Linked DNA regions of Homo sapiens: regions 1, 3 and 4 are each reported to be linked to region 2. Evidence: microRNA targets listed by miRTarBase, many of them from high-throughput screens and not tested one by one. Region 2 holds a microRNA gene; each other region holds the end of a gene's coding sequence.

The links. Region 2 holds the annotated microRNA hsa-miR-605-3p (AGAAGGCACUAUGAGAUUUAGA, at 918-939, opposite strand). A microRNA usually pairs through its seed, bases 2 to 8, with sites in the 3' UTR of a target mRNA and lowers its output. Matches are read on the target gene's strand: a 7mer-m8 pairs with bases 2 to 8, a 7mer-A1 pairs with bases 2 to 7 and ends in A, and an 8mer does both.
Region 1: the mRNA of AKIRIN1 is a reported target of hsa-miR-605-3p. Seed matches in the 3' UTR shown: 8mer at 700-707 and 7mer-m8 at 2,266-2,272.
Region 3: miRTarBase lists NUP205 as a target of hsa-miR-605-3p. The part of its 3' UTR that is shown has no 7-base or 8-base seed match.
Region 4: the mRNA of CBFA2T2 is a reported target of hsa-miR-605-3p. Seed matches in the 3' UTR shown: 7mer-m8 at 1,515-1,521.

Annotation. Positions count from the first base shown.
Region 1 is chr1:39,003,630-39,006,812 of GRCh38, forward strand. AKIRIN1 (akirin 1) reads left to right here. Exons shown (of 5, transcript NM_024595.3): 5 at 416-2,430. The coding sequence ends at 426. Among named protein-coding and RNA genes, the nearest start is that of AKIRIN1, 14 kb to the left of the region's middle.
Region 2 is chr10:51,297,379-51,300,561 of GRCh38, reverse strand. It overlaps MIR605 (microRNA 605), which reads right to left and starts at 989; the gene lies at 907-989. The region is part of intron 2 of PRKG1 (protein kinase cGMP-dependent 1); the gene reads right to left.
Region 3 is chr7:135,648,134-135,651,316 of GRCh38, forward strand. It overlaps NUP205 (nucleoporin 205), which reads left to right. Exons shown (of 43, transcript NM_015135.3): 43 at 271-620. The coding sequence ends at 423. It also overlaps the pseudogene LOC124901801. Among named protein-coding and RNA genes, the nearest start is that of STMP1, 13 kb to the right of the region's middle.
Region 4 is chr20:33,644,447-33,647,609 of GRCh38, reverse strand. CBFA2T2 (CBFA2/RUNX1 partner transcriptional co-repressor 2) reads right to left here. Exons shown (of 11, transcript NM_001032999.3): 11 at 1-3,163. The coding sequence ends at 2,964. Among named protein-coding and RNA genes, the nearest start is that of C20orf144, 16 kb to the left of the region's middle.

The DNA.
Region 1 (3,183 bases), not on the chromosome of region 2:
GCATTTAAAGAGGTTAAATAATTTGCCCAAGCTTATACAGCTAGTGGTTCAGCTAGGATTAAAATCTAGGTAGTCTGACTTGAGCACCAATTTGTTACCTGTCTTTTCTCCAGAAAGATAGTTTCAGTTGTTAATTTATGAAAGTTGATTCCTTAAGTTAGTTTATCAAGTGTGGTCAGGATTTCTTATTCTAAATAATTTGCAACTACCAGATATTCAAAGCATAAAATATTAACAGTTGTATATCTAACTGAATTTCAGTCAGGTTCCTTAAATTCTTGATCTTTAGTATCTTTTAAGTGGTGAGTCATCGTTCATGCTATTTCTCACATTTACTGTTAGTGAAAATTTTTAAAGCATGACACTACAGTTTTTAGTATTCTTACCCTTTTTGTTTTTTATTCTTAATTTACAGATGTGTCATGAAGCTTTGTCACATATCTGGGTACCAGGTTTGACCTCAAGAGATGGCTGCTGTACACTTTTTGCAACTGGTTTGATGTCACATTTCAGCTCCAACTTTGCATCCTGAGAACACTTAAACGTTTCTGCAGGTCCATTTTATACAACTTGAAAGACCGTAAAACTTTCTGGTTGCCACAAGCATATCTTTCTTTTCTGCTCATCCAATAAACAGCTGTGCCCTACTGTGATAGATTTTCCAAACAAAAATACCTGGAGCAGCAGTTTAGCAAAATATGCCTTCAGTGGCATTCAACAAATGGAGTTTCCCCAAGCACAGTTCTGTAAGAAGTGCGTGTGAGAGTGTGTGTATATGTGTGTATGTGTATTTTAAGTTATTATTTGTATTGTGCAAAAATTTTTTTTTGATCTTGGGGATTCTGGCTGTGAATTTGGTGCACGACAATTATGGTAAAAAAACATTTGCTTGGTCTAAAGAAGATCATTAATGTTTTGTGACCATACAAGTTGTAACAGTGGATTGTTTTTATGTGTAGGTATTGTTAAATACAGGGACTGTTTCCAGGCACAGAATATGAATCGTAAGTTAGGATGGACATTAGATGTGATTATGATGATAAAGCGAAGGTCTGCGGTCCTATATCTACAGACACGTGGTGAGAAATTAGAACAAACTGGAGACGGGCCATTGACACATGGACTCTGCCTGGGCATGTTAGGTTAATTCTTTGACTCCAAGCCTTAAAATACTCACATGGAGTCAGCGCTCACCTCATTCACACAATTATCATAGAGCTCCCTGGACACTGAACCTCTAAAGGGAAAAGGTCTACCCTGGAGCCAGGAGCATCAGGGTTGGCTTGGGAGCATGAGAGGTGAGCCCAGGGCTAGGCCTGGGCCAGGCCCCGGCAGCACTGCTACTTGGGAGGAGCCACTTCACCTTTGTATTAGTTATTAAAAAATATAATTTGGGCTGGGCGCAGTGGCTCACGCCTGTAATCCCAGCACTTTGGGAGTCCGAGGCATGCGGATCACTTGAGGTCAGGAGTTCGAGACCACCCTGGCCAATATGGTGAAACCCCATCTCTACTAAAAATACAACAAAGTTAGCCGGGCGTGGTGGCAGGCGTCTGTAATCCCAGCTGCTTGGGAGGCTGAGGCAGGAGAATCACTTGAACCCTGGAGGTGGCGGTTGCAGTGAGCACAGATCATGCCACTGCACTCCAGCCTGGGCAACAAAACGAGACTTCGTCTCAAAAAAAAAAAAAAAACATAGAATTTGGATCCTTTGGTCGGGTTCTCCCAAATTCTTTTGAGGTGTCCATGGTCAACTGCTTCAGCTTTGTTTTGGCAACCCCCTGCCCGAAGTCGCATATAGGCTGTTCTTCACCTTGTTTCCAAGGCTGAGGAACAGAAAGTAGCCTCTGTTTTGAGGAGGTGGAAGTTAAGTATACATTTATTTTTTACTGTGACTTGTTCAGGACCACATTTTACAAAATGCCTTGTTTCCTTCATTGTTTCTGGAAAGGAAAGTTCTATTAATATTGTTTTACTTTGAATATAGAATAGTTTTTTTAATTAGGGCTTATTTTGAAAAATTCTGAGTTTAATTCAAATGTATGCCAATACCTTCCAAAGTAAGGTAATATTCAGAGACAGTTGTTGTGATCAGATGGCTTAGAGAAATTTCTGGAATATTCACATTCGAAGATTCCTTATTAATGAATGTCTTTGACTTAAATCTAACCAAAAACTGCAACATTATTCTTTGTACATTTTCATTATATAGTGTTAACAAGCTTAGTTGCAAACAAATAAAATACTTAAGCTATTTGTTTACCTTGCCTTCTTAATACTGTGATAATGTTTATTAATTCAAATAACTTATGTGAGAGCTGCTATAACCATTTCCCCAGTTCAACATTGCATTGAAAATTTATGGACCTTTAAAAAAAAAAGCCCAACAGTGATTTTTTTTTAATAATTAAAGAATGATTTTACTTTGTATTTGAAGGGTGATTTGTTTCATCTCTTCTTTTTTCAGGGTAGTCACTTGTTCCTAAAAGAGGAACATAGCAGTGGCTGTAATGGGAATGGCTCTGCAGTGGGCTAGTCACACCAAAATAAAGAAAGGGCAGCTGTGGGAGCCATCAGAAGCTGTGGAGGCTGGACTGGTAATGGGGAATGCTGCCCCACTGAAGTCTTGTTTTAGAGATCAGTGTGATGTGCTCACTTAACTATAAAGTGTCAGTCCCCATTCCAACTAAGTGGCTCCTGGCTGGGAAGTAGAGTAGGTTTCTCTAAGGAAAATGACACCTGCTCACCACCCGCCCCACTATACCACATTGTTGTTAGGCTATCATATAATGATAAGGTAGCCCTCTGAGGCCACAAGGTAAGACCAAACCACCAGGGCTGGGTTTTGGGATCCCCTCTAAAGAGACCACACATGTTTGTTTAGTGTTTATAATCTAGAGAAAAGACAACTGGGACAGAAAATGGGGACCTGGAAGGTAGGTCTCAGACTGGTGAATGAATTTTTCCCTAGACCTTGATTTCCAGAGCTTGAATTTAAGGGCACTCCCAGGTAGAGAAATGTCTTTGTCCCATGGAAATTATAGACCAAGGAAGACGTCAACCTATAAAAACGTATAAGGGTTTCTCAGGAACAGTGTTTTCAGAATATCTGGTGAGCTAGCTAATTTTTTTCTCTATTTTAATTCCAGTTATTATCCTTGATAAAGTCTTAAGCTTAAGAGG
Region 2 (3,183 bases):
AGTAAAGCAAAATTCATCAGCAAGGCTATAATTTTGCAGAGAGAAATAAGAAGGGTGTATAATATTTAAATCGGAACTCAGCATCCCAGCAAAGAGCTTCTTAATCAAAACAAAAGAGAAAAAATCATTAAATACAGTAACCCACTGAGATTCACATGAAGGTATGTCCCACAACTTTCATAAATCCCGAATTTATGATACCACTATAATATACTATTACTCCACAAGAAGTAGATGTGAATAACACCCAAGGATTACTGTGTATGATACAGAAAACCAAAGAGAAGAAAAGCTGCATGGAGAGCAGCTGCTCTGACTGTGTGTGCAGTGCCTCATTCACCAACACACAATTCAAATTCAAGCCTCAGCAAAATAACTTGTCGTAAGCCATGATCCTCTATAAGGTCATCTTCAAATAGACGAAATAGTGACATTTAATTCATAAAGACAAGGTTCTACTCTCTTGCTGAGCAAGTAATCCAATCAACTGTGGTTTAGTTTCATCAACTTTGGAGAAAAGGCAATTTTCTTTCAAGATTTGACACCCTTCATACCCTCTGCCTATAATTCCAGATGGTAGGTGTAGGTGGTAGAAATGTTAGGTTGAGCAGAATGATAGTACCTAAAGAAGAATGAATAGTACCAGGAAATGCATGACTCATGGCATTCTAATTTTCTTGAAGTTCTTTTGTACATTTGCATCAAGATTTTCCACAAAATTCAATCCTGACTTTAATTGTAAATTAAAGAGTCCTTTATTGAATTTCTATTATTGCAGAGCAGTTACGCCACATGAGGTATAATAGAAGCTTATAATGTCATTGAGAGGCCAGGAAAAAACACATGTGCAGAGAGCAATATACCTGTGGCTGTCAGCCTGTAACATAGGTAACCTGTATCTGCAGTCCTAACTTGATTCTAAATCTCATAGTGCCTTCTCTGTTTTTCCCAAGGAGAAGGCACCATGGGATTTAGAACCAAGCTAGGGCTAGAGACATATGTTACAGGCTGTGAAAGTTCTACCAAAGTTCCTACTTTAAAGAATGAGCAAAAAGAGGCGGGGCATGGTGGCTCACACCTGCAATCTCAGCACTCTGGGAGGCCGAGGTGGGTGGATCACCTGAGATCAGGAGTTCAAGACCAGCCTGGCCAACATGGTGAAACCCCATCTCTACTAAAATTACAAAACTTAGCCAGGCATGGTGGAGGATGCCTGTAATCCTACCTATTCAGGAGGCTGAGGAAGGAGAATTGCTTGAACCCAGGAGGCGGAGGTTGCAGTGAGCCGAGATCGTACCACTGCACTCTAGCCTGGGTAACACAGTGAGACTCCATCTCAAAAAACATATAAAAATAAATACAGATAAAAAGAATGGGCAAAAAGAGATACTGGCTAAAGTCTTAAGCAATAAATTCATCAAAGGCAAAAAGACAGGTAAGTGTGTGTGGCTTTAAGGAACCATTAACTGAACCATTTTATTGGAGCAAAGGGCTCATTTAAAGGCATGAGTGAAAATGACAGATGGAGTAATGGTCATATTCCTTTCATTATTACACTTTAGACAACAAACCTTTGTGCTCCATTGCACTTAAATACCAGGAAAACACTTACCAAAGAACAATATTAACACATTTATGCAACCATATGATCTTTGCATACAGATCACAGCAATCAAGCTTCCAACCTTTTGTTGCATGCCTACTATGTGCCAGGAATTGTCCTAGCACTTCCCTTCCAATTCCCTATCCTATTTAATCGCTTCACATTCTACCACTCACACAAATTGTAGATTTATTTTACTCTCAGCCCACATAAAATACTCCAACCTAACAATTTTTAATTCTATCGGCATGATATTCTTTCATCCATCTAATGTTTCTACCTTAGATCAGAACCATTTCATATTTCAATTCCTACATTACCCCCTAGACTCCAGGCTTATAGTTTTATAAAATAAGATTGTAAAATAAAAACCCATCTTCTCCCTTCCTCCAGAAAAGGAGAGAAGTAAGTGTGTAATAGCTAACATTTATAATGATTTTACTATGCTGAGTGCTTTCTACATAAAGCTGTTTCATTTAATGGCTCAGCAACACTGTTGAAAAAGGAAGAACCTGGAGTATGGAAAGACTGAACAACTCCCACCAGGTTCATGTAATCAGTAATTGGTGGAGCTGGAATTTTTAATCAGGTCCAACTCAGAACCTAAATCTTTTAAGATCACAAGCTTAGTCATAATATTCAATTCAGTGCCTTTTCTTTGCCTATAAAATAAACCACATTTTTTGAAGTAGTGGCAATGTAACTCTTGAATTAGATTGTGTGGGTTCAGATTTCAAATGTATCATTTGCCACCTGTGCAAATTTGGACATCATAATTAATATCCCTAATCATGAATTTATCATCTATAAAATGGATAATATTAGTTTCTTTACACACCATTGTTATAAGGTTAGGAGATAATTCATGTAAAATGTATACAGGGCCTAATATAGTAAGTGCTTAACAAGAACTGATGAAGGAATAATGGTTAGGTACATAAATGAATGAGTGAATGAATTTCCTTTACATACATCTCTTTATATAAATATATCACTTATAGTAACAAGTGTAGGTAAGGACACCTACTCTATCCCTCATTGTTAGGGTTAAGAACTGCTTGCATTATTTTTTAGGAAAAGCCATTAAATGCCTTATACTAAAGAGAAAATAATGGGAGGCATTATCGTAATCATTATCATCATGATTTCATCAAAACTGATGAAAACCTATTACATGTAAGATATCAAGGTTAAAAAAGAGACATATGGCAAAGATGCCATCTTAAAACCTACATAGTAATGCAGTATGTGTAGATTGATCAGTGAATAATTAGATTGTACAACTGCAGTGGAACAAAAGTTCTACCATTCCTGTTGCTCATACATAGAAATGCACATGAGTCACCTACAAGCTTCCTGATTTGCTTTTGCTTTCTCCCCAGCTATTACCCAAACCTAAAAGTATGATTTTTACAAGTTAATAATTTTCTTTTAAGAGGTGTTGTCAAAGTTTCCTCTCAATCCTAATTTAAGGTAAGTATAAAATTATAATATGAAAATCCAAGAATTCACGTTTTAAAAGGAAAAAAGATAAACCAGTAGCAAAGAGCTGGTAACAGATGGCGACTTAGCAGTTAAAG
Region 3 (3,183 bases), not on the chromosome of region 2:
TCAGCATCAACATTCATTGCTATTTAAAGCAGGTTTTTAAATTTATACAAGAAAAGAAAGCAGGAAAAACATGAGAATTAAACCAAAAAATTCTAAGGTAGAAAATGTGAATGTTTAGTTAATTTAGTAACACATTACAAAAATTCAAAAGTATTTACATTGAAAGAACCACATTACAAAAATTCTAAAGTGTTTTAAATTGGAAGACTTAGAATAAAAGAAATATTTGAGACAACAATTTTAACAAAATGTCTTTTGTGTCACCGCTAGCTTCAGGCTGATGCAATCAACGCTTTTGGAGAATCACTACAAAAGAAACTTCTGGACATTGAAGGATTATATTCAAAAGTTCGATCTCGATATAGTTTCATACAGGCTCTTGTCAGACGTATCCGTGGCCTCTTGAGGATATCAAGGAACTGAGAGCCCGTGCTTATGCTCTTCTATGAGAGAGATGAATTGGGGAGAATTGTCTCCATTTTATAGATTAGTTTCTTTCTAAATTATGACCAAAAATATTTTGCTATTTCTTTCTTTGTATATGGACATCTTTTCTGTAAACTTCTTCCCCTAGTTCCATCCTCACTAGTAAAAAATAAATACTTTTTAAAAAAACAAAACAAATGTATGGTTAATCTTTTGATCTTTTATCTTTTGATCAGCATTATCAGGAATCTAACAAATAAACCTTCAACAGTGGTGATTTTCCCATAGAGATATTATTCTGAATGCCAGATTAAAGGCATAGTCTGAAAATTCTAATTTTTTCACCCTTTGTAGCTACATTACACTATTAACAATATTCAGGGTTACTAAAATATAGCCATGCTCTTATAGAATAGTGTACTCAATACTGTGAAAATGTCTGAAAAAGTCAAGCTTTTTCCTAAAATTATTTAGGTTTTCCTTTTTTTTGTTTTTTTCTTTTCTGCACGTAAGTTGACAATACAATTGTCCCTTGGTATCTGGTGATTACTGGTTCTAGGGCTCCCACGGATACCAAAACCTATGTTTTGGCATGCATGTTCCTTATATAAAATGGCATTGTGTTTGCATATAATATAGATACATCTTCTTGTATACTTTAAATCATTTCTAGATTACTTACAATACCTAATATAATATGAATTCTATATAAATAGTGGTTAATACTACGTTTTTAAATTTGTATTATTTTTTGCTGTTACACTGGTTTTTTCCCCCCCAAATATTTGTGATCTGTGGTTGGTTGAATCTGCAGATTTTGAACGTGGGGATATGGAGAGCTGACTCTACAGTAATTTGTGTTTGTTCCTTAGAAATGATTGTGAAATTTCTCAAATTAATCATCTGCCAATATTTCTCATATAATTAATATGATGGCTATCACTAGGACAAAACATTTACATGATCACCACTCTATTTCTTACCCAGTTGTTTTCATGTTCAAGTAACTACATCATCCGAAACTGCAAATTTCCTTTTCCAGACAGCAATTACTTCAGCCTAATACATAGGAGAGACTGCTGAGAGGAAGTCTTTGCTTTCATTTAGTAACAGAATAAACGCTATAACACTATAGAATAAAATTGATAATTATTCTATAGTGTCATAGTGTTTTTTTGTTTTGTTTTGTTTTTTGTTTTGTTTTTGAGAAAGAGTCTTGCTCTGTCACCAGGCTGGAGTACAGTGGCATGATCTCGATTCAGCACAACCTCTGCCTTCCAGGTTCAAGCGATTCTTCTGCCTCAGCCTCCCGAGTAGCTGGGACTCCAGGTGTGCGCCACCACACCCAGCTAATTTTTGTATTTTTAGTAGACACGGGGTTTCACCATGTTGGCCAGGATGGTCTCAATCTCCTGACCTTGTGATTCGCTCACCTTGGCCTCCCAAAGTGCTGGGATTACAGGCGTGAGTCTCCGCGCCCAGCCTAGTGTTGTTGTTGTTGTTTTTAAATGCTTACAATAAAACTTCTATGGCTTCCAAGCGTTGGTTTTTGGGTTTTGTGGTTTTTTTTTTTTTTTTTTTTTTGGTGATAGGGTCTTACTCTGTCACCCAGGCTGGAGTGCAGTGGCATGATCGTGGCTCACTGCAACCTCCACCTCCCGGACTCAAGTGACTTTCCTGCCTGCGCCTCCCGAGTAGCTAGATTACAGGCGTGTGCTACCATGCCCAGCTAATGTATTTTTAGTAGAGACGGGGTTTCACCATGTTGGCCAGGCTGGTCTCAAACTCCTGGCCTCAAGGGATCTGCCTGCCTCAGCCTCCCAAAGTGCTGGGATTACAGGCATGAGCCACTGCATCTGGCCTTCAAGCATCTTTAAAACATCTTTATCTTAGAGGAAGTTATGCTGTCAGGTTTAAAAAAAGAAAAATATAAAGGCTTTGTCAGTGTTATATTTTGTAATTAATTTACCGCCCACCAGATATAAACATTAGCTGGAAAACATTCTGTTAATAAATAAAAGTCCTGGATGTGAAAGAATAAATAAATGGATCCAAAATGTAGTTACAGTGCATAGTGCTCCACTGGTCAGGCATATGGTTATCTCTGTCATCTGGAGCACAGGTATGAACCTAGAAATGATTAGCAAAGAGCCTAGGCGTGAAATCAAAGCATTTTATAAACTTCTGAAGTATGAAGCCTTCTTAACAGACAAGACATATAGCTAAATTTTGAACTGGGATTTTAGGAGTGAGGAGGTGGTTCTTGCCTGTGTTTTATGTGAGTGAGAGCAAGTGAGTGTGTGTGTGTAGGCAGGGGAACTCTGCTTCTTGTCAGTGACTTCCTCAGATTCCTCTATCCCTCCGCCTCCCCGACTACTGCTGCTGCAGTGGCTGCTCCCTGGGTTGTAGGAAGTGAGTGATAATGATGACGTCGGGGTGGAGAGTGACAAGCAACAACAGAGATTTCAATCTGCGGCTGACGAATGGGCCCATCATAATGCACTGGAATGAAATCGTAGGGACCACATCAAAGGCAGCCTCCAGTTTGTGGGACGCAGTCCCAACACTCCAAGGAGAGAAGGCCATAGAGTATATCCAGCATATGCGAAGGGAAAAACCACACGCCACTGAGATATTGATGACCTCAGCGGCAGAATGCTCTTCTGAAGGAGGAAGTCCGTGCACCGAAGGGGAGGTCAAGTGCCCAGCCACAGGCCAACTATCCCTCCTCAGACAGCATCCTCTACACCAATGCCA
Region 4 (3,163 bases), not on the chromosome of region 2:
ACTGGAGATTTTAAAAACCTGCTCAAGACCGGACACAGTGGCTCATGCCTGTAATCCTGGCACTTTGGGAGGCCAAGGTGGGGGGATCACCTGAGGTCCGGGGTTTGAGACCAGCCTGACCAACAAGGAGAAACCCCGTCTCTACTAAAAATACAAAATTAGTTGGGCGTGGTGGCGCATGCCTGTAATCCCAGCTACTCAGAAGGCTGAGGCAGGAGACTCGCTTGAACCTGGGAGGCAGAGGTTACCGTGAGCCGAGATTGCGCGATTGCACTCCAGCCTGGGAGACAAGAGAGAAACTCCCGTCTCAAAACAAACAAACAAACAAAATAACAATAAAAAACCTGCTTAAGGTGTTAATCCAACAAATCCATGAAAAACTAGTAAGCTGTTGTAATGGCTCTGTGACCTGTGAGACAGCCATGTCTCATGCAAATGTGGCCCTGTCCGGGGTACTGACTCCGTCCCCCTTAGAGTTCCCCACCAAGGACTGTGGCTTAAGGAGGCAGATGGGGTCGGGGGATACCCATGTATTAGGCTGACTGGAAAACTGTGGGGCTTATGTGTTCCACAGCAAAGGAACATGATTCTCTGCTGTTGTTTCACTGGTCACACCTTACTTTAGGCAATGGAAATCTAGGCATTTTAAAGGTGTCGTGCACTAGATTTCTTTGTAAGACTGAAAATGCTTGGTTAGAGTAAATTAGGGACTTGAAATTCTTTAATTTTGCCTTTTTTTTTTTTTTTTTGAGACAGAGTTTTGCTCTGTTGCCCAGGCTGGAGTGCAGTGGTGGAATCTCGGCTCACTGCAACCTCTGGCTCACAGGTTCAAGAGATTCTCTTGCCTCAGCCTCCTGAGTAGCTAGGATTACAGGTGTGTGCCACCACACCCGGCTGATTTTTCTATTTTTTTTTTATTAGAGACAGGGTTTCACCATGTTGGCCAGGTTGGTCTTGAATTCCTGACCTCAAGTGATCTGCCTGCCTCGGTCTCTCAAAGTGCTGGGATTACAGGAGTGAGCCACTGCGCCCAGCCAGGACTTGAAATTCTTACAGTAAGATGTACCTGTATCCAAGGAGAAGGCTACCTGTGTGGATCCCTTTTCCTTTATGGTACTGACAACTTTTATTTTAGACTCTGGTCAGTGCACAGAAGGTGGAGATTTAAACTTGTGCTTCAAAGGCCAGCTGGAGCAGGGCCAATTAAACTTACTCCAACTGATTTCTGGGTGTGAGAGGATGCCAGAGGCTCAAAGATGGAGAGCAGGAGGGGTCGGGGTCCTCAGACTCCCATCAAAACCAAAAAGACAGGCCGGGCATGGTGGCTCACGCTTGTAATCCCTGCACTTTGGGAGGCCAAGGCAGGTCACCTGAGGTCAGGAGTTCGAGATCAGCCTGGCCAACATGGTGAAACCCTGTCTCTACTAAAAATACAAAAATTAGCTGGGCGTGGTGGTGGGCGCCTGTAATCTCAGCTACTCGGGAGGCTGAGGCAGGAGAATTGCTTGAACCTGGAAGGCAGAGGTTGCAGTGAGCCAAGATCATGCCACTGCACTCCAGCCTGGGCAACAGAGTGAGACTTTGTGTTAAAAAACCACCACAACAACAAAAAACAAAACCCAAAAAGACAGGGAAGAATGTGGGAGGCAGTTCCTAACATTCTGAAAGGGATATGAGTGATGTCCCATTTGAAAATGGGAAGCTAGGAAGAAAAATTGATCAGCTTTTCCCAAAATGGTTCACATTTCATAAAACCTTTCTGATGAGCTCAAGGAGGGACGCTATCAGATAACACAAGAGAAGGAAACAGAAGTTGTGTGCCTGATGATAAATCAACATAGTAGATATAATGACCTGTAACTATGAGGTCTGAAGAATTCTTTGAGGTCCAGGAGGGCTTTTCAGATGAGACCAGGCCTTGACAGTGGGGGCAAGTCCTACCAACCTGCACAGCACATCCAGCAGGACAACTGTGGCTCAGCAGGTGCCAAATGGAGCCCATGGGCAGAAGATGCCCACAGCGTTCCAGATGTGTGTGGTCTGAGAGATAAAAGGACACAGAACAAGATGACTGTGCAAATAGCCAAGTGGTGGCAGAAGTTCTGCATTTCCAAGAGATGATCCACTCAATAATTTGACGATACTAGTTGGCCAACATGCTCAGAGAAAACAGACTATCCACAACTGAGCCTCATTCTCTCTCAGATCAATCCATGTGCTGGAAACTATTTTCTGCACAAGCAAAATCAAATGAGAAAAAAAACAGGTCCCAAACTAAAGTAGCCAGCAAGGTTGGAAAATCTTGTCCAAAATCATCTGTGATGTGGGGGAAGTTTTATTTGTTTTATGTTTTTGCTACTACGGGTGCTTTTATTGCAACAGTGACTTCTTTCCTGTGGACTCTGAGATCTTATCAAGTCTGAACAGCAGGGTTGAGAAGAGTCCTGAATGCCGCCTGTTGCTTACCCAAGTCCCCGTGAGGCCAATCAGTGTCATCTGCTGAGGATGGAGATGGGGCCGAAGGAGCTATTCAGGGGTGAGGCAGGCCGCTCCCTGACCGAGGGGCCTCCTCCACAGCCTGCTGCCTGCCGCCTGCCGCCTCCAGCCTGGCTGAGCACATTGGACAGTCTGCTGACTCAAGGAGATGGGGAGGGGAGCTGGTGGTCTACACTGAAAAGGGGCCGGCTAAGTCAGCTTCAGTGGAGAGAGGAACAAACCAGGAAAGCCATGGAGGAGGCAGCTCAGGCTGGCTGCCCATGTGCAGAGAATGGCACACTGGCTCCGCAGACAGCAAGTGCACAGAGAGGCTGTGGGGTGTTATTATTCAGGCTTGGACTCTTCCTGCCTCCAATTCATTTCTTGCTGATGACCCGGCAGCTACATGCACGGGTTCCAACAGTCAGTCCCTCAGCCCAAGCACTCTGTGGTGCTGAGCAGCCATCAGGGTAAGCAGAGTCCGGGGCTCAGAGTCCGTTGGTGTCGATAGCTGTCACAGAAGCAGGTGTTGAGGAACGCGATGTGGTTGCCGAGGTCTTGTCGAGGGCTGGGCTGGGCACGCTGCAGTCGGCGGACCTGGCAGAGGAGCCCCTGCCTACAGGAAGCAGCGGCCGGCCCTGGCCGTGGGGGCTCTGGCCATGCAGGTTCTGACCACAGAGGCGGTGGT